Linked DNA regions of Homo sapiens. The protein of the gene in region 1 interacts with the protein of each later gene in a pairwise test. Each region holds a gene or a part of one and is shown in the gene's direction. Other genes may lie near its edges.

Region 1 (3,104 bases):
TGAAATCTACTAAACCTCACACCCAGTTTGGGGAATCCAAGAATTACTATACACTGAGGCAGATACTTTATTTGGGGATTCTGCCTGAAGTAAGACTAAAGAGCAAAGTCTCTTCTTTAGAAAGGCAAGAACAAGGGGCAGAGTAAAACTAAGGGAGCATAAAGAAAGCCTAGAAGTCCACGTGTAGAGGGAAGAATAAAGGGGGTAAGAAGACACAATAGAAGAGGGGTGGAAACAGAAGAATGACAAAAGAAGGGCAAAAGCTACAGTCCAAGTGCTAGAGCCAAGCCAGTTTCTTACAGATGTAGGGTGTGTGTGTGTGTGTGTGTGCGTGCACGCACACACGTGCACACACGTTACAAGTGGAGAATGAAGGTAAGGTATCCTAGGATAAGGTCTCCTAGCAGACTTGCATTTTTGGCTCATAGTATTAGACTTTATTGGTGGTAGCATAGAAAGTAGAAGAAACGACTCATAGCTTCTGGCAGCTGCTTAGTTAAATTAAGGTGAAATGGGCTAGAGACAGGCAGGCTTCCTCTGACACGTTTAGATCATATTCCAAGTGTTTATCCCAGTAGCCTAGACTAGCCTGTTGACACAAAGAGCTCTTCAAATATCTGTAGGTAGCAGGGTTAGGAAATTCCTGTGACAGGTTTTCATTTCTGCCATTTTTCAAAGTACACAGGATGTAGAGCATGGATAGTGATATAGTATTGATTGGTAACAGGCCCACTGGCTCCCCACTCAATATGAAAGTTTAAGAACTGGAGTAACTGTGCATAGAAGAGCTTATACCAAGAAGCCCATTTTATCACATGGAAAATCACAAGGTTCCCTGTTTCAAATGTCTAATCCAAATTTTAAAAACATGTTCTATTCCTATGCTAGTTTAGATGAAAGAGAGTTCAGGATGCTATAGGTAAATTTCTTAGGTTAAGAGGTTGCTAGAGAAAAAATGATGTTTGAAAAATGTTTCGGCCAGAAGCAGTGGCTCACACTTGTAATCCCAGCACTTTGGGAGGCCAAGGCAAGTGGACTGCCTGAGCTCAGGAGTTCGAGACCAGCCTGGGCAACACAGTGAAACCCTGTCTCTACTAAAAATACAAAAATTAGCCGGGCTTGGTGGTGCACGCCTGTAATCCCAGCTACTCAGGAGGCTAAGGTGGGAGAATTGCTTGAACCCAGGAGGCTGAGGTTGCAGTGAGCCGAGATTGCACCACTGCACTCCAGCCTGGGTGACAGAGCAAGACTCCATCTAAAAAAAAAAAAGAAAATGTTTCTTAGGACAAATTTTAGAAAAGAGATAGTTTAGAGAGTATAGTTTTAGAAATGGCTTGTCACCTTGGTAGTCATTTAATACTAGAAAATAGCAAAATCATAGGACTATGAATAAAATTAGTATGAAATGTTCTATAAATAGTCAATCTATAGAATTACTGAAACTTTATTATGTCAAATTTAATTTTCAGGCATAAGTATGAATTTCTGCACAACAGAACAACTCCAGATATAAGAATAACAGTTCCACCAAAGAAGATTGGCATTCTATTAGACTATGAACATTCAAAGTTGTCATTTTTCAATGTGGACCTTTCTCAGCATCTATATACATTTAGTTGTCAGCTTCACGAATTTGTGCATCCCTGTTTTTCTTTGGAAAAGCCTGGGTGTCTAAAGGTACATAATGGCATTTCAATGCCAAAACATGTCACTTTCTATTAGAACATTCTGATGTCCAGTTTCCTGTCTTCCATGCCTACCCCTCTCGCAGCTGCTCACGCCTTAGCTGGCTGAACCTGGCACTTAAGCACCATGTGCCCAGCACAATTTATGGCTCATGCTATTATCTGACTGGTGTGCTAGCGCTCATTTCACCCAACCTGGATTCTAGTCCTGTGTGCTGCTACCTGTGTGCTGCTAGGATAGTCATTACCAGGCCCAGCTGTAAAATAAAGGCTCAGACTAAACGAACTCAAAAGTCTTTGAAGCTGTCAAACTATATTCGTGTATATGCAAAATATCTTGAGTTTCCAAGACCTAGAGAGCTTGGGAGAGGACGAGGGTAGTCTTAATGGCTCCAGCAGCACCAGTACACCCATGCATTTCATGAGTCAGCCAAGAATACACTTGAGAAGGCGAGAGGCTGTCTGTAGAGAACCAGGGAAGCTGTGTGCCCTTCTCAATGTCTTCTACCCTCGTTTTCCCAATAGTGAGCAGCACTGTGGTGAGGTCCCTTCCACTGTGTACTCTGCATACAGGGTATTCCCTGTTCCACTCCTACACAGTATGCACCACTCTCTAATTTTGAAATTACCTCTATAATGCCTAATTCCATGAAGGGAGGGACAGTGCCTGTTTTGTTCATTGCTAGATCACCAAGGGCTAACACATAACAGCTGTCACCAAGTATTTGTTGAATAAATTAGTATCTTCTTCAGCCACTGCTCTTTGGCCTCTTACTGCTCTCCATGTGAAGGATGGCAGGGCTCTTTCAAAACTACAGCAAAGGACCTATGGCCAAGAAATGGGAAAAAACCTAGAATGGAGGCAGCGTGAAAGAACAGAAGGGCATCTGTGGCATATTAGCAAATGCACAACAATTTTTTAAAAGAAATTAACAGCCCACCAAAGGGCAAAGCTGAGCACGGGAAGGAAGACTGATCTCTAGCTAGGCAGCTTTCAGGCATCCTGCCTCACTGCCCCCAGGCCATTCTGTGAGCTCAATGCCCAACTCCATCAGCTACATTCCTGGTTCTCCTGTTCAAGTTTCCAGTTGCCACTTAAGCTCTGCACACACAGCATTTTCAAAGCTTGTGAGTGAAGCTGCAGAATAATTCCATTTGTGAAGCAATTACAATTCAGTATCATGTCCCACAGATGCCTCTAAACCCAGATATGCCCTAATCTCATCATTTAAGGTTTTGTGTTTAAAAAAAAAAAGTCCACTTTTCTTTTTTCTGGCGAAACCCCGTCTCTACTAAAAATACAAAAAATTAGCCGGGCATGGTGGTGGGCGCCTGTAATCCCAGCTACTCAGGAGGCTGAGGCAGGAGAATTGCTTGAACCCGGGGGCAGAGGCTGCAGTGAGCCGAGATTGTGCCACT
Region 2 (2,824 bases), on another chromosome or scaffold:
CACTGAGGCTTAAATATGATGAACAATTAACCAAATAAAGTTGAAATGTTTTATAATTGTCATTAAATCCTTGATATTTAAAAGGAGAAGCAGTATGGTTCTTAGAAAGCATTCATTCCCGGCCCAGGAGTGGTGGCTCACGCCTGTAATCCTAGCGCTCTGGGAAGCCGAGGCAGGCGGATCACCTGAGGTTGGGAATTCGAGACCAGCCTGGCCAACATGGTGAAACCCCATCTCTACTAAAAAATACAGAAAAATTAGCCAGTCGTGGTGGCACATGCCTGTAATCTCAGCTGCTTGGGAGGCTGAGGCAGGAGAATCACTTGAAGCTGAAAAACAGAGGTTGCAGTGAGCCCAGATTGCCCCACTGCACTCTAACCCGGGCGACAAGAGTGAAACTCCGTCTCAATTAAAAAAAAAAAAAAGAAATAAAAGAAAGCAAGAAAGCATTAATTCCCATGCACTGGTCCTGGAGAATCTATAATTCAGTCTTTTATCACAGGTTCACATTCCCTTATAAAAAGGTAACAGTTGGATGCATGTCTGGAGGAGCTCTTGGGCTTGTCCGATTGTATCTTTAACTTCTCATCTGCACCTTTAGCTATGGCTATTTGGGCTGTGCTTAGAAAATGGCCATACTCAGGGCACTGTAGAATGAACAGTCCTTCCTGTTTAGGCATTTCTCCTTCCACTTTAACTTCTGACTCTGTCTTCAGGGCATTTCTGTTATATTAAGCTTCTTAAGTGATGAGTGGTCTGGTGTTTGTGTTATGCAACTCAATTTAAGATAGGTTCATGTGAGATCTGGCAGAAAGCAGGCTGGGGTGGGGTGTGGAGATACTGAATATTGTGCATGTAGCATATGAAAGGCAAACATAAATTTAATTCAGAAACAGGCAATGTTTATTTATAGTTAAGGGTCAAATGAATTATACAAGGGACATATGACAAATAGGATGTAATTTGCTTCATTAATCCAAATGAAGGAGAGTAACTTTCTTTCTCCTCAGAAATACAGAATCACACATACTGCAATACTTCCAGAAATAAATCATCCACTGAGTCTTAAAAGTAAAGAACTCTGTGTTCTTGCTCTGGTGTCTACATAACCGGGATCTTATAAGTAAGCCAAAGACATCTAAATGGCTTTGCCTAGAAGCCAAGGCCATTGGTCCAACAAAGACATCTTGAGGTTACTGGAATGCATGGAGAATAATCGCCCATCTGATGACAACAGCACGTTTAGCTCAACTCAGTCACACATGGACTGGGGAAAAGTAGCTTTTAAAAACTTTTCTGGTGAAATGTGCAGACTCAAATGGTTAGAGATTTCTTGCAACTTGAGAAAATTCGGCACTTTGAAAGAATTAGTCCTGGAAGCTAAGAAATGTGTTAAAAAGATGAACAAAAGCCAAAAATACAGGAACGGTCCAGACTTTCCAAAGAGGCCCCTTACTGCTTACAATCGCTTCTTCAAGGAGAGTTGGCCCCAGTACTCCCAAATGTACCCTGGGATGAGAAGCCAGGAACTGACCAAAATCCTGTCAAAGAAATACAGGGAACTCCCAGAGCAGATGAAACAGAAATATATTCAGGATTTCCGGAAGGAAAAGCAAGAATTTGAGGAAAAACTTGCTCGATTCAGGGAAGAACACCCTGATTTAGTCCAGAAGGCCAAGAAATCTAGTGTCTCCAAGAGGACTCAAAACAAAGTGCAAAAGAAGTTTCAGAAAAATATTGAAGAAGTGAGGTCTCTTCCAAAAACGGATCGATTTTTCAAGAAGGTAAAATTTCATGGAGAGCCTCAGAAACCCCCCATGAATGGATACCACAAGTTTCACCAAGATTCCTGGTCAAGTAAAGAGATGCAACATTTGTCAGTGAGGGAGCGCATGGTAGAGATTGGCAGACGCTGGCAGCGCATCCCGCAGAGCCAGAAGGATCATTTTAAGAGCCAGGCTGAGGAGCTGCAGAAGCAATACAAGGTGAAATTGGATCTCTGGCTCAAGACTTTGTCACCTGAAAATTATGCTGCATACAAAGAATCGACCTATGCTAAGGGTAAGAATATGGCCATGACAGGAGGCCCGGACCCCAGGTTGAAACAAGCAGATCCACAGTCCTCATCAGCAAAGGGTCTGCAAGAAGGGTTTGGGGAGGGGCAAGGGCTCCAGGCTGCAGGAACAGATTCATCACAGACTATTTGGGTAAACTGTCATGTCTCCATGGAACCAGAAGAGAACAGGAAGAAAGATAGAGAAAAGGAAGAAAGCAGTAACTCTTCAGACTGCAGCAGTGGAGAAGAAATAGAAGTTGATGTCTGAGGGCAGTGGCTCTAGTGCAGCTTCCTTGTTTTTTTTTTTTTGTTTGTTTGTTTTCTTTTCTTCCTTCCTCCCGCAAAGTAGGACAGGTTGGGAAGAAAGAAGCAACTTGGTGCAGCACTCTCCTACATCAAGATTATGAACCTGGGAGGAACTCTTTGGGAAGAATAAATATAAGTTTGAGCCAATACTGGCCTTATCCTTAAAAAAACAAACAAACAAATATCATCCCTTTCCCGAGGAACTTTATGCAATTAAGGCTTCTGAAATGAAGAGATGATTACGTTGTGGGGTACACACTGTATTAGACTGAATATTTCTGAAGCAAGAAGCTTTGCTTTACTCATTTTTGTCCTGCCAAAGGTGGTAGGGGGATACCCATAAGCCTGGGACCCAAACTTCCCTGTGGAAATGTTTTTCAGGACTCCTGCACTAAATCTAAGGTCGGGGATATTTGATGAAAGGTGGGGTAGGTGTCTTAAGAGAATTGTCCCACTCTTGAT
Region 3 (3,500 bases), on another chromosome or scaffold:
GGCCTGCACTACAGCTAAATTATAATAGGTCATTGGAATGCTTGGCACGCAAGGCCCTTTATGTGCTAATTCAAACCTGAATCCTTTTGCTTCTTTACATATTATCTGTATTCCTATTTGCCATTCTCTGAACTTGCAACATACTGTTATTTCTAGTACCTGGAATTCCTCCTGACTTCCATCTTTATCCACCTTTCAAAGATGCTACCTATTGTTTAAAGCTCAATCCGTGAAGCCTACAGATGAAAATATTCCTTCCTTGGAACTTAATATCTTCCTGTTAGTCTTTGCACTGAATTAGTTTTTTATACATTTTTTCTCACCAAAGGCCAGGCCTGCATCTTGCTCATTTCTGTGTTCCTTATAGCACTGGCAAGAGTTTGAACTTTGTAGTTGTTCAGTAAGCATTTGTTGATTAAATGTAAAACTCCAGAGAAAATAGGTGGTACTTAGTATTAACAATTAACATATATTTTTACTTGTATATGGGAATTGATAGGGAGCATCCTCGAATGGGAAAACATCATTTTGGAACTGGACAGGGGTGGGTGGGAAGAGTAGTTGAATGCTGTCTCCTTGCACGTCTGACCATGCACGGTTTCAGAATTCTTGCTGCCTTAACTACTATTACTACCATTTTACAAGTGTCTTAGTTTTCATTTTACCCTACACACTGTATAATGCTATTGGTGAATGCAAATGAGGTGTAAATTCAGATGAGTGAATGTCTTCGTGTGATAGTAGATAGTTTCCAAAGGAGTGATTTTTTTTTCCCATTACAGGCATGTAATGAATTTACTACACATGTGATGAACCTTCTCCGAGAACAGAGTAGAACACGTCCCATTTCTCCAAAAGAGATTGAAAGAATGGTGGGCATCATCCATCGAAAATTTAGTTCCATTCAGATGCAGCTCAAACAAAGCACTTGTGAAGCAGTTATGATTTTAAGATCAAGGTTCCTTGATGCCAGGTATGTGAAGCCATAAATCTATTGCATGGCTTTCCCCCGTCTGTCACTCCTTGTGTATTATTTTCTGTAAAACTGACCAGTTGGTCTTAGATTCTTTTGGCCATATGAGTCTTTTGTACAATGGACAGGTAATTCAACTCATGGTTCCTGTGCTGTCAAGCTTTCCTGTCTGGGAATGGTAATGTGGGTTAGCTGCCAGTTTAGTGACTCAGGAAATGAATAGGATTAGTGTCTCTGCTAATGACTTTAGGAATATGTAGCCTTTCCATTCTGATGCTAAAAGGTATTTTTAAGGATAGTTTTCTGCATATAACTGTTTTAACAAGGGGTATTTTGTAAGAATTTCTTAATGTTACACGGGTTGTGCATAATATGGGAAAATACTTGGAGATACTGATACTCCTAAGAAGGAAGTGGCATTTCAGTTAATAGCAGTTACCACAAAACTCCAGAATCTGTATTTCCAAATCAAGAAAGAAAGCCTACCATTTTTCCTGTAAGGATGAAAATTTCCCTTTATCTGAAGCTTTCCCCAAGTTTCACAGGAGTTAGGTAATATATTGTATATGGTAATAAATTGTCTACAGTGACCTACTGAGTGACAGAACAGAAGAATTGTCAACGTCATAGTGTACGCTGCCCCTGTAGGGATGCCTCTCGGGGCATTGCTAAAGCTTATGATGAATCTGCAGCTTTGGAAAGAAGTTTCTATTTTGTTTTTCTTTCTTCTCCCATGGAATCTGACAGAGGTGATAATTATCATCCAAATCTCACAGTATTAAAGGAAATAACTAAGATAGCTTCTCAACTGGAAAACAAAGTGTGTGGAGCATTTTCAGTGTTTTTCATTTTAGCTCTTTATTTTCATCTCAGTTCCTGCCCATCCTTTTGTACATGGGCTAGCACAGTACCTACTAGTCTCCCTGTCTCCAGTCCTACTGCCCTCCAGCCCATCCTCCATATCCCTTGTCTGTTTCTATAACATCACCGTGCTACCATGATTGCTTTGCTTGAAAACCACAGTAGCTTTCCAATGCTCGATACATGCATACTTCACATATACACTCCTTAACCTGACATTTAAGGCCTGTTCCTGTCTGCATTACTTCTTTGTTGTTGTGAAGATTTTATTATTCTTTTTTCTATTTTAAAAATGCCAAGCTCACTATGGAAAGTTTGGAAAATATATGGAATAAAAGGATGAAGGATAAAAGTTAACCTCATTTTTATTACCTAAAGAAAAAATCACTATAAATGTTTTACAATATTCTCTCTCTTTTTGTTTGTTTGGGGGCTTTTTAAAAGAAATATTTCTGTGATGGGTCAATATGCATAATTTGGTCTGCTTTTTAAAAAATTTACCATGAATACATGAACATTTTCATGTAGTATAAGCTCTAATTATTAATAGCATTTTAACAATTGAAGTTACCAAATGGATATAAAATAAATAATGTCCTTAGCATTCCCTTATGCATTCCCTATGCACTCCACCCAGGCTGGAGTGCAGTAAATGATGCTATCATGGCTCACTGCAGCCTCGACATCCCATGCTCGAGTGATCTTCCTGCTTCTGCCTCCCGAGTAGCTGGGAGGCATTTGCCACCATGCTCGGATAATTTTTGTATTTTTTGTAGAGATGGTGTTTCACCATGTTGCCCAGCCTGGTCTTGAACTCCTGAACTCAAGCTATCCTGCCTCCCAAAGTGCTGGGATTATAGGCAGGAGCCACCATGCCCAGCCAACTATTAATTTTCATATAATTTCTTCCTTTCTTCCTTCCTTCCACAAATATTTATTGGTACTGAGGATATATTGGTAAACAAGACAGATTAATATACTTGCCCCAATTGAGCTTATATTCTACTTGAGGAAACAGACAGTAAACAGGTGAACAAATATACCATAACATTCTATTTAATAATGTAATTAAATGTAATAGGGTGATAAGTGGTATGCAGAAAAATAAAGCAAGTCAAGGGGAGAGAAAATGGAGAGGGTACTATTTTAGATAGATTTTTATTTAAACTAACATTTTAATGAAAATCTTCATTGATTGAACCTTTTTGGTCTTTAGGATTATTTCCTAAGGATCAATTCTTAGAAATGGAATTATTAGATCTGAGTTTGAACATTTTCAGTGTTCTTATTTATATATCACTAAATTGTTCTTTCCTGTGTTTCTTCCAAAATGAAATGCTTCATGGAATTATGTTTCTACTGCTTAGAATTCCTTCTTTTCCTAAGTCTAACCACTTACTTCCCTGGCTCCCACAACAAACTGTCTCTCTAAGCTGGTTACCAGTAATGAGTCATCATCTGTGAGGGTATCTGGAATGGAGCCCGGAATGGAACCAGTGCTTGTACTTGTTGGATCTAGTGAGATCTTGCTCATCGTTCCGGATCTGGTCTAAATGCTCGCTTTTCAGAAAATCCACCTTAATCACCCTGCTGGACTAGCCCTTCCTTCCCTTGAACACTTATACTATGTTTACGCAACTATTCAGACTGAAAGTCATGTAGGCTC
Region 4 (3,500 bases), on another chromosome or scaffold:
TAAATTTTATGTCAATAAAAATGTTGTATATTCAAAAATACACTAAAATGAAGCAGTGGAGTGCAGATTTGATGTTTGAATTCTTCCGCATTAGAGGAATGACATTCCCATTCTTTTTTTTTTTTTTTTTTCTCCTGAGGCAGAGTCTCACTCTGTCCCCCAGGCTGGAGGGCAGTGGTGTGATCTCGGCTTGCTGCAACCTCTGCCTTCTGAGATCAAGTGATTTTCCTGCCTCAGCTTCCAGAGTAGCTGGGATTACAAGCGCACGCCACCACACCTAGCCAATTTTTGTATATTTAGTAGAGACGGGATTTCACCATGTTGGCCAGACGTCTCGAACCCCTGACCTCAAATGATCCACCCACCTTGGCCCCCCAAAGTGCTGGGATTACAGGCATAAGCCACTGCACCTCGCCCTAATCCCGTATTTTTTTTTTTTTTTTTTTTTTTTTTTTGCAAAGCAACAACCAGGAGCTTTATGGAACCTAAAAATGGAAGATAGCAATAGTAGATGAACCTATTTTGCCTGAGATACATATGAAACAATTGCCTATCACACACCCAGCAGTGCAGCCCAAGCCAGAAGAAATAACCAGTTTTCTGGAGGGATGATGACTGTGATTTATGTAGAATATCATAGTTTAATTGGCAGTAGTTTTTTCCTTTCATAGTGGTACAATATAATGGTGTAGCTCACAATCATTGTGTCTTAGATTTGATGAACTGCAGTAGGGTGAACAGGTAAAATTATATTGACTCTGTGGAATACTAATCTTTTTAGTAGACTTAACTTTAGGGAAGAGGTCATAAGATCTATCCTTATGTTTTCAAATGAGATCCTTGCTGAAAAGCGTTTTGAAATAAAGCCTTTTTTATTGCTAATAGAGATGACTAATTCTAAGAAAATACGTAGATATAATCAGAAATTAACATGCTACAGCATCTAAAAATTCTAGGACGGTGGTTAATTGTAAAAACCACGTTAATGTTTCTGAGCTTTTATAAAACATATCAACCAATGTGTAGACCTGCAAAAGTTGAAATAGGTGTATAATAGACTTTTTATTAGTTTGGTATTGTAATAGATCACTCATTTGTATGTATTTTGCATTCTAGTCATATGATTATAAGTAATTTTGTTTATAAGTTTATAAGTAATTTTGTACAAGTAAATTTAAACTTTAACACCATGTTAAAATTTCAGAAGCCAGAAAAGAGGGAGATGCAGTCTTATATTTAACAACTTAAAACAGTTTAAATCCCATGTAGTTATAGACTGAGATAAAACAAAGCATTTCTCTTGGCAGTAGAATCCCTTTGTTCTGTGTGTGTGGAACATAAGTTCAAGAGGGCAGGGACTATGTTTTGTACAACTATGTATATTATAAAACTTATAGCACAATGTATTGCACATACTATTAAAACATTTTTGTTGTGGCTTTTTATTAGAATGCAATTTCAAACAATGCACACATATTAAATTTTCTAAATAATGTGTTTCATTATTCAAAGTATTAGTACTGTCTGGCATTTTCTAAGTGAGCTTGATTAATAAATAAACCAAATGCCATAGGAAGCAAATGATTATCTGGGGGAAATTTTTAAATGATATAGAAATCTTAACTTTTTAACCAAATGTAAAATGGATGTGAGAACAATCAGCTCAGAAGCAAAGTTCAGTATCATCATTATCACCATGAACTAAAAACTTTCTAGACAATAAAATTAGTATTATGTGATGAATCCAATATGTGTAATTGAAGTTTTTCAGAGAACTCTAATTAGTGCAAGTTCTCCTGTGCTTTTTGGTCCTTTCACCCTTTCATCTCTTTTAAACTTTAGAAGCAGAATGATACTCTCAATATATTGATTGTATTCCCTCCATTTTATTGGAGAGACTAGATCATAGTTAATAAAATATGTTATTGGACTGTTAGGATTATGTATATATTTAGAAAATAAGACTTTTAAAATACTTTGTGAACACTAGCAAATTTTACAGGTGGTAATAGCTATCCAGATTGCTAAGTTATTTTTAAGAATATCTGTCTTGAGAATGGATCCACATAAGTAAGTTGATAAATGCCACTAGTTGATAATAATAGCAGGTTATCAGCATGCACTGATTTAATTTTCATACTTTAAAATTTTCAAGGCTACTCTGAAGTTTGATGGTATTTTTGTAATTTTGCTGAAGCATAAAATCTTAAAAAAAAAAAAGTTTTATGAAGCTCCTGGATAGGCTAAGTCGTAAAGAAGCCTACTAGCCACAACAACTTTTTCATTTCAAATGACCTTTTGATTTCTAATAAAATTCCTCTTTATCATGAAGTTTTCCTCTAATAGAATTTGAGAAATTAAGTATTAGTGTGGAAAATGCTAAGTGCTAGTTGAATGAATATAAATTGTGTGGTGTTACACACACATACACACACACACACACACCCAACTTAGGGTCTGAGTGAGCTTGAGTTCTATTTGGTATACAGAGGAAAGACCTATACACTCCATGATCTGTACTTGCAGAGCAGGTTTATTTAAAAACAAACATCTTTAGTTTAAAACTAATTAATGTTTAAAAATTATTTCAGACCGGGCGTGGTGGCTCATGCCTGTAATCTCAGCACTTTGGGAGGCCGAGGCGGGTGGATCACAAGGTCAGCAGTTCGAGACCAGCCTGACCAACGTGGTGAAACCCCATCTCTACTAAAAATACAAAAAAATTAGCTGGGCGTGGTGGCGGTCACCTGTAATCTCAGCAACTTGGGAGGCTGAGGCAGGAGAATCGCTTGAAACCAGAAGGTGGAGGTTGCAGTGAGCCAAGATTGCACCACTGCACTCTAGCCTGGGCAATAAGAAAAAACTCTGTCTCAAAAAAAAAAAATATTTCAAATTATAGTTTATCTTCCCATTTTCATCACGTGGAATACATTGACTTTTTCTCATCTCTGTTTTTTCAAAGATTTGTCCCATCAGATGAAAAGAAGAAACAAGGTTGTCAACGAGAAAATGAAACTCTAATACAAAGAAGAAAAGACCAGATGCAACCAGGGGGCACTGCAATTAGTGTTACAGTACCTTATAGAGTAGTAGACCAGCCCCTTAAACTTATGCCTCAAGACTGGTAAGATAGTCTCTATATATATATCTTTTCACAGGTGTTGAACCCAAGAGAATGAATGTTGTTATTGCCGTTGATGACGTTGCTTTTTAAGAGATGGGGTCTCACTATGTTGCCTAGGCAGAACTTGAACTCCTGGGCTCTGTCAGTCCTCCTGCCTCAGGCTCCCAAATAGCTAGGACTACAGGTGCATGCCACTGCACCTGGCAGCCTATATTTTTTAAATATTCGTTTGTTTTCTGTATATTGTTGGTTGTTTTTTCTCATGTGAGCAATTATCAAATTTTATCATGGGTTCTAAATAGAAACTGTCTTTGAAAAGTGTGTTGATGTATATTTACTTTGGTCATCAATAATGTTAACATTCTAATAATTCCTC
Region 5 (3,500 bases), on another chromosome or scaffold:
TGGTACATTAGTTTGTAAAATGCTTTCACAGCATTAACTCATTGTTAATTCTTATACCGCCAAATGAGATATCATTTCTTTCCTATCCATCTGTTTTACAAATGAGGAGACAGGCTCAGAGAAGTAACCTACTTATCTAAGGCCACATAGCTAGTAAGTGGTGGAACCAGAACTGGAACTAAGGCCATTTAACTGCAAATACTGACCTCCTGTCATTTATCAAGCCATTTTCAGACGGCATGATATTCTCCTGAGGAGCAAAGGAATGGAATTAGAGCTAGCACAAGGAGAAATTGTGCATAGCTTGCTGCCTACGTAACTTATGCAGAAGATCTGAGCAGTCTTCCTGTTTTTAGGGATATTTTGCACATGTGAACTATATAGTGAGAAAATGTCAAAAACTAATACATGATATACTGTTTGTCTCTTAGTGTCCATCCTTGAGTAATAGAATTTTGTTTTAGATTTATTTGAACATTTACCATCACAATTAAATTTTAGGTCAACAACCAGCCTTGAGAAATCCAAATACCAATTTGACTATAAATATAGTAATACGTTTAACTGCAATAACTATAGCTATAAGTGCGTACCAAACCATGTTTTTTCCAAATGACCTTAATTTCTTGGCACTACCCATGTTGGATACCTCATTTGCTTCCCCAAAGACTGGGCCCAAAATTTCTGTTGTTTCTACAATGATTCTGCCTGCCAACAAAGTCTGAAAATCTCAAGTTTGTTATAAAAACAGCACAGTTAGAACATGATGACATTCCTGGAGGGAAAAATAAGTCCACTTATTTGTTTCTAAAATGCCTGTATCCCAAGCAACTAGAACACATAGTTGGCTATACTTAATGAGGAGTCAAGACAAACCATTCAATTCTTCTAAAAAAGTAAGAAAGTATTCAAAGCACCAGAGTCACAATGTTGAGCTCAGGTGCAATTTTCTATTCACTTTACTTCCAGCATGGTCGGGTTAAGAGTGGACTACATAGCTTGAAGCGGATTTCGTTGAGATTCGTTGTAATTGAATCAACAACTGAATGAGCATGCCTAAGTAGTGGCTCCAGAGAGTCTGCTTTCAGATTTTCTTGCCAGCTTTGACCCAAGATTACCCTGGGTCTGCGAGTTTTATCACCTGCTTTATCATTTGATTACAAGTATAGTATAACTGTATTTCCTTGTGGGATAGAAGCTGTAAAAAATAAGCTGAAAATAATAGGGGATATATATAAATAAACGATCTGAGAAAGAATAAAGAAAATAATTACAATCATGCACATGATTTACTCAACTTCATTCTTTTACCTCTTTTTAATGGTGTTAAATGCTCACAATTTATATTTATACTCTGTCGAATGTCAAAAAAAATTTTTTAGAGAGAGGGGTTAGTGCATCGGGGATATTTATTTGGTTATTATTTTATATAATTTTTTCTTTTTCTATTTTGGCTTCAGGGAATCTAAATTGAAAAAAAAATACTAGGTAGCAGAATTCTGATATCTAGTGTACAGAGATCAAATCTTAGTCTGAAAAAGAAGGGCCTAGTATGTCTTATCTTTAGTTATTGGAGTTACACAGTGAGAAAAAAAAATTTAGTGACCTAATACTGTGAAGAAGTTTCCAGAAATAGTAATCTCTTTTTGTGGAATAGAAGGAGAGGCTATACTACCTCCTTAAGTCTCAGGACCTTTTTGAAGATTGAGAGGCTGTTTTAGCCTCTGCATCTGCCTGCTAGAGAAGAGTAAGAACATGGCAGAGAATCCCAGAAATGTAGAGCTCTCTCATTCATCTCTGTATCCCATGCTTATTTAGCATAGGTATCTAGCACAGAGACTCTCAATACTTGTTAAATGAATACAGTGCAAAGTCTTCCTCCTTATACACTGAAGAGATTTAATAACCTGGGGATTCTTATCCAAGCTTTTCTAATTGGGTCTGGAAAATATATAAGAAAACACTGCCTGTTAGGATAAACATCCATCATAGCTGCTGGAGCACTGCTCCCTTTTTGAGAGCTGAGTGAAGAATGAAAGAATGAAAGGTGTTCATTTATTTTTATACTCCAGGAGTCAAGAGTTTTGCTACCAAGGATTTTCCATTTAAAGTGTGAGGTAGAGGAGAAAAGTCCCCTTCAAGTGTCACTAAACATAGGCATTTGCACAAGCTGCTTAACATATCATACCAACTCATTCATCAAAGAATTTAATTAAAGAAGCCATCCCCATTTAATAAGACTGATAAATAGAAACCCTCGTCAGGGATGATACAATTAGCTCGAATTGTGTAACTTCAGCAGGATACCAATTGTTCAAATGTATTCTATTGCCTTTTTGTTGACATTTTTTAAAATTCTTGGGCCCTCAATGGCAGGCATTTTCTTCTTTCTCATATAGGTGAATCTTTATCATTATGGAACTTATGGTCATTTGTTTTGGATTTTAGATGTCTTGTCTTGCAATATATTCCTGGGTTTACCTTGGGACTTCTCTAATAATAATGATGGCTATTCATATGTGTCTGATGGCTCTTAACACACAAGAAACTAAGGATAAAAATATGGCATACTCAGTCACATTGGAACTTGGTCACACAAGTCTTTTGAGATATCTGTTTCCCTGCATCTGTACCCATTTTCTATCAGATCCATCTTTTGATCTGTGAAAAATGGCAGATAATACTTGGTACATTTTACAGGTTTGGTGGCCTAAAACTCCAGGCCTGTTTAACTTCTTAACAATTCAAGAATTATATGGATGGAAAATGTTTTTCTTTACATTTCTTTCTTTATATAGGAAACTGTAATTTAGCTCTAAATTCAACTAGCCAGCTGGGACTAGTCTAATCATTGAGAGACATGACACCAAGTAATTCCGAGGCTCAGCTTTAATCTTGACAACATTCCTGTCACATTCACTTCCATGATAGAAGACAGATTGCTTTAGAAGACTTAAGTTACCTTGACCTTAAACTAGAACTTTTTATTAACAGCTGTTCCCAAGATAAACATTTAATACCTCTCTGGAAGGGAGAGATTGAGAACATTTACTGATTCATCAAAACCTTGGGGATTTCCTTGTTCTCTGAAGCGTCAGTGATATTTTTATTAGCTCTATTTTTATTTCTTAGGTGCTTAGAAAAATTCCCATCTTTTCCCATCAGTGACCATTCACTAGTTCAAAATGGGAAAAACAAAATCTTTGTTAGACTTTCATTTCTTTCGGTTTATTCAACCTTGTATTTTAATTGTAGATAGGGATAAATTATCTGGTGTTTGATACCCTTAGAAAGTTCTTCCCACCTGGAGTGTAAATTAGTTTAACCATTGTAGAAGATAGTGTGGTGATTCCGCAGACCTAGAGGCAGAAATGCCATTTGACCCAGCAATCCTATTACTAGGTGTATACCCAAAGGAATATAAATCATTCTGTTATAAAGATACAAGCACACATATGTTCACTACAGTACTATTCAATACTATTCAATAGCAAAGACAT
Region 6 (3,500 bases), on another chromosome or scaffold:
CTTTTAGAGACCCTGAGGTTTGTTCTTCATCCCCTGCTGCCTCTTGACTACATCTGTCCTCTCGCCCTTGCATCATCTTTTCCAGCCACGTTGTCCTCCCTGCTGTTACTCTGTCCTGTCATGGACACTGTATTCCCTGTTGCTGGTAACAAATAACAGACTTCACAGATTAAACAACACTTTTGTTCTTTCTGACATGGGGAGGACGGTCTCCCACCCCTCACCCTCGAAAGGAGTGGCCAGCCACAACCCTAAATCATATTGTTTCACTATCCAGAGTGATCCAGAGTTGGCACCCTAACAAACAAAGACACTGTCCTCCCGCATGATATGTCAGGATCCTAGAGATTACCTCTCAGATGCTGAGGACAAAGTTCTGACTTCTTTTTACTTAGGGTAACTTCTATATAAGGATATACAACATAAACACAGATATATAAACTATTGATTTTGTTATTGTTTTTCCTTAAATTTCCTTTTGATTTATATTTCACTATGAACATAATGTTTTAATTTAGTAATTTATCATGCAAGATTTTTGACTGACCAGAAAATTCCTTAGAAATAGTAACAAATTAAATGTATATATTATATCAGTTTTTTAATGGAGTCTGTTATTTCCATCAAGGATTTTACATATGAGACATGGTGTGGTTATAAATTGGTCACATACAAACCAGAAAACAAGATTCATGGGGAAAACATAAACTGAACATTCATTAAAGTTGAATGCCATATCCTAAGTGTGAAATCTTAAAAACACCAAACAAAGGCTTCATTTGTCCACATCTCTTCATTCTGTGTCCTTATAGGCGGCAAGACTATTGCGGAAGCAGGACCACATGAAGACTGCCCTTGCCAGCAAATCTGGGAACAAACTGCAAGTGACTTAACCCAGTCTCAAGACTCCATCATAAATAATTCTCACTTCTTTGAACAAGGTGATGTCCCCTCCCAGGTTGAGGCAGGACTATCTATAATTCATACAGGACAGAAACCTTCACAGAATGGGAAGTGTAAACAGTCCTTCAGTGATGTTGCCATCTTTGATCCTCCTCAGCAGTTCCACTCAGGAGAGAAGTCTCATACATGCAATGAGTGTGGAAAAAGCTTCTGTTACATCTCAGCTCTTCGTATTCACCAGAGAGTTCACTTGAGAGAGAAACTCTCTAAGTGTGACATGCGTGGTAAGGAATTCAGTCAGAGCTCATGTCTGCAAACTCGTGAGAGAGTCCACACTGGAGAGAAACCATTCAAATGTGAGCAATGTGGGAAAGGCTTCAGATGTAGAGCGATACTTCAAGTTCACTGCAAATTACACACAGGAGAGAAACCTTATATTTGTGAGAAATGTGGGAGGGCCTTCATTCACGATTTCCAGCTTCAGAAACATCAGATAATTCATACTGGGGAGAAGCCGTTCAAATGTGAAATATGTGGTAAGAGCTTCTGCCTTAGGTCAAGTCTTAATAGGCATTGCATGGTCCACACAGCAGAGAAACTGTACAAATCTGAGGAGTGTGGAAAAGGCTTCACTGATAGCCTAGATTTGCATAAGCATCAGATAATTCACACAGGACAGAAACCGTACAATTGTAAAGAATGTGGGAAGAGCTTCAGATGGTCCTCATATCTTTTGATCCATCAGCGAATCCACAGTGGAGAAAAACCATACAGATGTGAGGAGTGTGGGAAGGGCTACATTAGTAAGTCAGGTCTTAACTTGCACCAGAGGGTCCATACTGGAGAGAGACCTTATAATTGTAAGGAATGTGGGAAGAGCTTTAGCCGGGCTTCAAGTATTTTGAATCATAAGAAACTCCACTGCCGGAAAAAACCCTTCAAATGTGAGGATTGTGGAAAGAGGCTTGTACACCGGTCTTTCTGTAAAGACCAACAAGGAGACCACAATGGAGAAAACTCATCCAAATGTGAGGACTGTGGGAAGCGCTACAAGAGGCGCTTGAATCTGGATATAATTTTATCATTATTTTTAAATGATATGTAAGTTGTACATATATATGGGATATGGTATGAAATTTTAATATGTGTATATAATACGTAATGATCAAATTGATGTAATTAGTGTATTACCTTAAACAATTAACATTTCTTTGTTTTGGGAAAATTCAAAATCCATTGTTCTAGCGATTTGAAAAGAAACAATAAATTATTGTTGATTATAGTCACCTTTGGTGCTTTAGAACACTAGAATGTATTTCTCCTATCTAGCAGTACTTATGTATCTTGTTACCCAATCTTTGGCTATCTCACCTAACCCCTACACTTCCCTGCTTCTAGAACCACTGTTTTACTCACTAATTCTATGAAATCAACTTTTTTAGCTTCCATATGTGTGTGAGGACAGTTAGTATTTATCTTACCTTGCTTAGCTTATATTGTTTAACATGTCCTCCAAAGCTCATCTATGTTGCCACAAATGACACAATTTTGTTTTCTTTTTATGCCCAAAGAGTATTCTATTGTGTATATATGCCACCTTTTCTTCATTTATCTATTGATGGACACATAGGTGGGTTCCATATCTTAACTATTGTGAAGAATAGTGCTCCAATGAACATGGTAGTGTAGATATCTGATCCACATACTGATTTCCTTTGCTTTGGATATACTCAATAGTGGGATTGCTAGATCACTCGAATCTTATGCCTCAGAGGCTTGACACAAGAGCAAAACTATGGAAGTGTGGCTAGGGTGATATGGCTTCATACCACCTCAGGCCTCAAGTCCTCAACTGCACCAGAGTGTCCACGTTGGACAGAATCCTTAGTAATGAGGTGTGTGATAAAGTCTCTGCTCAGTTGTCTATAATCTCATTTGAGAGTTCACAAAGGGGCAAAACATTAAAAAGAGGCATATGGTAAGCACTTCAGTGTGTGTTTATATCATAATTTATCACAGTCCATACTGATAATATATTTCATCCAGGCTTGTAGGACAGAAAACATTTGTTTAAGTTAAATTCAGTGTTTCACCATAGCTCAGCATTCTCCCATCATCCTAGGACCATCGTAGTAGAGAACTCTTGTAAATTGTGCAGTAGGGTTGCAAACAGAACTTACGCTTGTCATTCAGGAGACAGGCCTTAGAATAAGAGTTTGTTCACACATTTACAAAACCCTAATGATGAACATGTCAAAAGTGGTGACCACTAGAATGTCAACTACAGGTACCTTGTTTTCTGCATCCTCAGGACCTTAACACTGATTAGCACTTACATGTTTAGTATGTGTTAAATGACTCAAAAGGAGAAAATATGATATTTTAAAATTGCATCTAGGAGAGAAAATCTACAAAAAATAATTCAGGGACACGAGTTAAAATGCAGAATACACTCAGTTCTGCAATCCAAAGCATTATTTTGGGTAATCTTACCCTGTTGCACTTGGCTGCTGGCTTCCCCTCATCCTCTGTTCTGAAGTTTACTACTAGTGGCTTTGTCTAATGCTCCATTGGTTGCATACAATATAAATTCAACA
Region 7 (3,500 bases), on another chromosome or scaffold:
ATAGGGGTCCAAATTCATTCTTTGTATGTGGTTATTCAGTTCTCCCAGTGCCACTGTTGAGTAGACTGTTCTTTTGCCATTAAATTGCTTTGGCAGCCTTGTCTAAAATCAATTCACCATGAATTTAAGGCTTTATTTCTGGACATTCCGTTCTTTTCCATTGATCTACATGTCTGTCCTTATGTCAGTACAACAGCATTTTCATTACTGTAGCTTTGTAGTAACTTTTGAAATCAGGACCTGTGAGTCCTACAAATGTAAACTTCTTTTTCAAGATTGTTTTGATGATTATGGGTTCCTCAAATTTCCATATGAATTTTATGATCAACTTGTCAATTTCTACAATGAAAACACCTGGGGTTTTAGTAAGTATTGCATTGAATCTGTGGATCAATTTGAGGAGTATTGCCATCTTAGCAATATTTAAGTCTGCCATGCCATGAACATGGAATATGCTTCCATTTACTTAGATCTTTAATTTTTTTCCAATGGTGTTTTGTAGTTTTTACTGTGTAAGTCTTACACTTATTTTGTTAAATTTATTCCCAATTATTTTATTCTTTTTTATGCTATTATAAGTGTAATTGGTTTTCTAAATTTCACATTTGGATTGTTCGTTGCTAGTGTATAGAGATACAGTTGATTTTTGTCTGTTGATCTTGTATCCTGCAAACTTATTTGAATTTATTAGTTCTAATATCTTTTTAGTGAATACATTAGTATTTTCTATATATGACAGCATACCATCTGCAGCTTCCACCTCTGCAATCTGAATGCCTTTTATTTCATTTTCTTGTTTACTTACTTTGGCTAGAACCTCTAGGACAGTGTTGAGTTGGAGTGGTAAAAGTAGACATCCTTATCTTGTTTCTCTTAGGGGGGAAACTTTCAGCCTTTCACCATTAAGTAGGATGTTAGTTGTTCTGATCACGTTTTATTTCATTTTCTTGTTTACTCACTTTGGCTAGAACCTCTAGTACAATGTTGAGTTGGAGTGGTGAAAGTAGACATCCTAATCTTGTTTCTCTTAGGGGGGAAACTTTCAGCATTTCACCATTAAGTAGGATGTTAGCTATGGGTCTTTTGTAGGTGCCCTTTATCAGGTTGAGAAAGTTCCCAATTATTCCTAATTTGTTGAGTATTTTTGTTATGAAAAAGTGTTGGATTTTGTCAAATGTCTTTTCTTGACTATTGAGATGATCATGTGGGTTTTGTCATTTATTCTACTGAGTGGTGTATTACATTTATTTATTTTCAGATGTTAAACCAACCTTGTATTCCTGGAATTTTTGTACCTAAATTCAGAAGGGATACTGGTCTATAGTTTTCTTTCAATGTCTTTGTCTGGCTTTGGTATGAGGGTAATACTGGCCTCATAAAATGAGTCGAGAAGTGTTCTCTTCTGTTTTTGGAATAGATTTTGAAGGATTTGTATTAATTTTTAAATGTCTGATAGAACTTAACAGGATGCCATCTGGACCTGAGCCTTTCTTTTTTTTTTTTTTCTTGACATGAAGTTTCGCTCTTGTTGCCCAGGCTGGAGTGCAGTGGCGCAATCTTGGCTCACTGCAACATCCACCTCCCAGGTTCAGGTGATTCTTCTGCCTCAGCTTCCCAAGTAGCTGGGATTACAGGCATGCGTCCCTACGCCTGGCTAATATTTTGTATTTTTTTTTTAGTAGAGACGGGGTTTCACCCTGTTGGTCAGGTTGGTCTCAAACTCCTGACCTCAGGGGATCCACCTGCTTTGGCCTCCCAAAGTGCTGGGATTACAGGCGTGAGCCACTGCGACTGGCCTGGGCCTGAGCTTTTCTTTGTGGGAAGTTTTAAAATTATTAACTCAATCCTTTAACTTGTTATGGGTCTGCTCAGATTTTCTTTCTTCTTGAGTCAGATTTGGTAGTTTATGTCATTTTAGGAATGTGTGCATTTCATGTAAGTTAGCTAATTTTTTGGCATATAGTTGTTCATGGAATTCCTTTATAATTCTTTTTATTTCTATAAGCTTTGTGATGATATCTCCTCTTTTATTCTTGATTTTAGTAATTTTTTTTCATAGTCTTGCAAAGGTTTGTCAATTCTGTTTAATTTACCAATTTTTAAAATTGCTTCAACAATAATCATTTATTTGGCTTTCTTTTTAGGGTTGATTTCTTTATTCCAGGAGTCTCTGTGGTTGGTGGGTTTTCAATATGCTCCAGTCCCAGACTGCTAGAACAAGAGAGAGTGATAGAATTGGCAGTGAAATATACGAACCACCCTCCTGCCCTCTGGGTTCACAATACGGTAAGCACACTGCCTGTTTAAACGCGATGATCTGGGTATCTCTGCCACCCACAAAATTTGTGTTAAGCTCATTTGATTCACCTAAGAAACCTGGGCTTGAGTAAAAGGGTACATGCCCAGAAAGAGCTTCTAAGAAAGGTCAAAGAAACTTTGATGCATTAAGTATGAGTCAGAGACTTTGGGATCTGGAAGTATTTTCTGGGTCACCAAACGGTATTCAGTTGAATACTGCTTTAGAATTAAAATATTTTATATTTTAGACAAGTTCTAAAAAGTTGGCTCTCTGTGTCATGTAAATGGTAAATCTATAAATCAGATTATTTTGTCCTAACCATCCTAAATAAAGGGAATTAAATTATTATTCTGTCATTTTTGGAGGGGAAACTATCTGATTACATAGTACTGCTTCTTCCCAGAGGTGAGCACAGCTAAATCCACGGTGCCATTGCCTCTCTATTTCAGTGTCTGGAAAGCTCTTCACTCGGGATTCTGAGAGAGAATCCAATTTGATTGCTGTTAATAACTCTTATTTCACCACAGGGCTCAACACAATCCTACAGAAGCTGCCTGTCATTACCTACTAGAACTCTGATAACAAAGAATGAGCTCAGAACAGATCAGTTACTCGTTGTCTTAGTTTTTGACCCTTCTATCCTTTTCACTTATTGCTTTTTCTATTCTTTTCCTTTTCCTTTCACTTCCTCTTCATTGCAAGAGTGTCTTCTATATTTACCAACAACCTCCATCCCAACCAGGCATTTTCTTACCTTCTTTACCAAAAACACATACCAGTATAAATATGGCTTCAAAAACAGCATTTTCCTGTTTCCTGGAAATCATTGAAAATCAATGAAGGAAAAAGAAAACAAAACCTCTATTTTCAGCAAAACTTGGAAACACACTGTAGTATATTTTTAAAGGTTGCAGAGAATTTTTGGGTTTCTGTAGGAGCCACATGGAAATAAGTAGAGGAGAGAGGCCGAGTAGCAAATTTCATAGAGCACCAACAAAAATACATGAGGGAGTGGGGTGGGACTTACAGCTCTTGCCTGCAAAGAGGGTATGGAAACACAGTTGCGTTTTGTGGCTGTAGAAGGCCCACCTGAACGCAGCAAGGTTCAGTTAGGAGAGAAGGCACGCAAAGAATCACACAGGCAAATCATGTTTGTAGGAACTAATATGTCCTGTAGTAGCTGAAGAGAGCTTTTATGTTG

What was found.
Region 2: the proteins of FSD2 (region 1) and UBTFL1 interact in binary tests that used the Homo sapiens proteins (3 or more experiments, as listed by UniProt).
Region 3: the proteins of FSD2 (region 1) and PBX3 interact in a two-hybrid assay, tested with the Homo sapiens proteins (3 studies listed by BioGRID and IntAct).
Region 4: the proteins of FSD2 (region 1) and CDC73 interact in binary tests that used the Homo sapiens proteins (3 or more experiments, as listed by UniProt).
Region 5: the proteins of FSD2 (region 1) and ESD interact in binary tests that used the Homo sapiens proteins (3 or more experiments, as listed by UniProt).
Region 6: the proteins of FSD2 (region 1) and ZNF230 interact in binary tests that used the Homo sapiens proteins (3 or more experiments, as listed by UniProt).
Region 7: the proteins of FSD2 (region 1) and OXNAD1 interact in binary tests that used the Homo sapiens proteins (3 or more experiments, as listed by UniProt).

The regions. Positions count from the first base shown.
Region 1 is NC_000015.10:82,757,966-82,761,069, reverse strand, and holds part of FSD2 (fibronectin type III and SPRY domain-containing protein 2), read left to right. Parts: intron 1-1,469; coding exon 1,470-1,722; 3' UTR 1,723-3,104.
Region 2 is NC_000011.10:90,084,808-90,087,631, forward strand, and holds UBTFL1 (upstream-binding factor 1-like protein 1), read left to right. Parts: upstream 1-1,142; coding exon 1,143-2,324; downstream 2,325-2,824. UniProt on the Homo sapiens protein: Essential for proliferation of the inner cell mass and trophectodermal cells in peri-implantation development.
Region 3 is NC_000009.12:125,928,873-125,932,372, forward strand, and holds part of PBX3 (pre-B-cell leukemia transcription factor 3), read left to right. Parts: intron 1-782; coding exon 783-973; intron 974-3,500. UniProt on the Homo sapiens protein: Transcriptional activator that binds the sequence 5'-ATCAATCAA-3'.
Region 4 is NC_000001.11:193,230,031-193,233,530, forward strand, and holds part of CDC73 (parafibromin), read left to right. Parts: intron 1-2,962; coding exon 2,963-3,124; intron 3,125-3,500.
Region 5 is NC_000013.11:46,773,162-46,776,661, reverse strand, and holds part of ESD (S-formylglutathione hydrolase), read left to right. Parts: intron 1-3,500.
Region 6 is NC_000019.10:44,009,457-44,012,956, forward strand, and holds part of ZNF230 (zinc finger protein 230), read left to right. Parts: intron 1-812; coding exon 813-2,008; 3' UTR 2,009-3,500. UniProt on the Homo sapiens protein: May be involved in transcriptional regulation.
Region 7 is NC_000003.12:16,292,712-16,296,211, forward strand, and holds part of OXNAD1 (oxidoreductase NAD-binding domain-containing protein 1 isoform 2 precursor), read left to right. Parts: intron 1-2,144; coding exon 2,145-2,286; intron 2,287-3,500.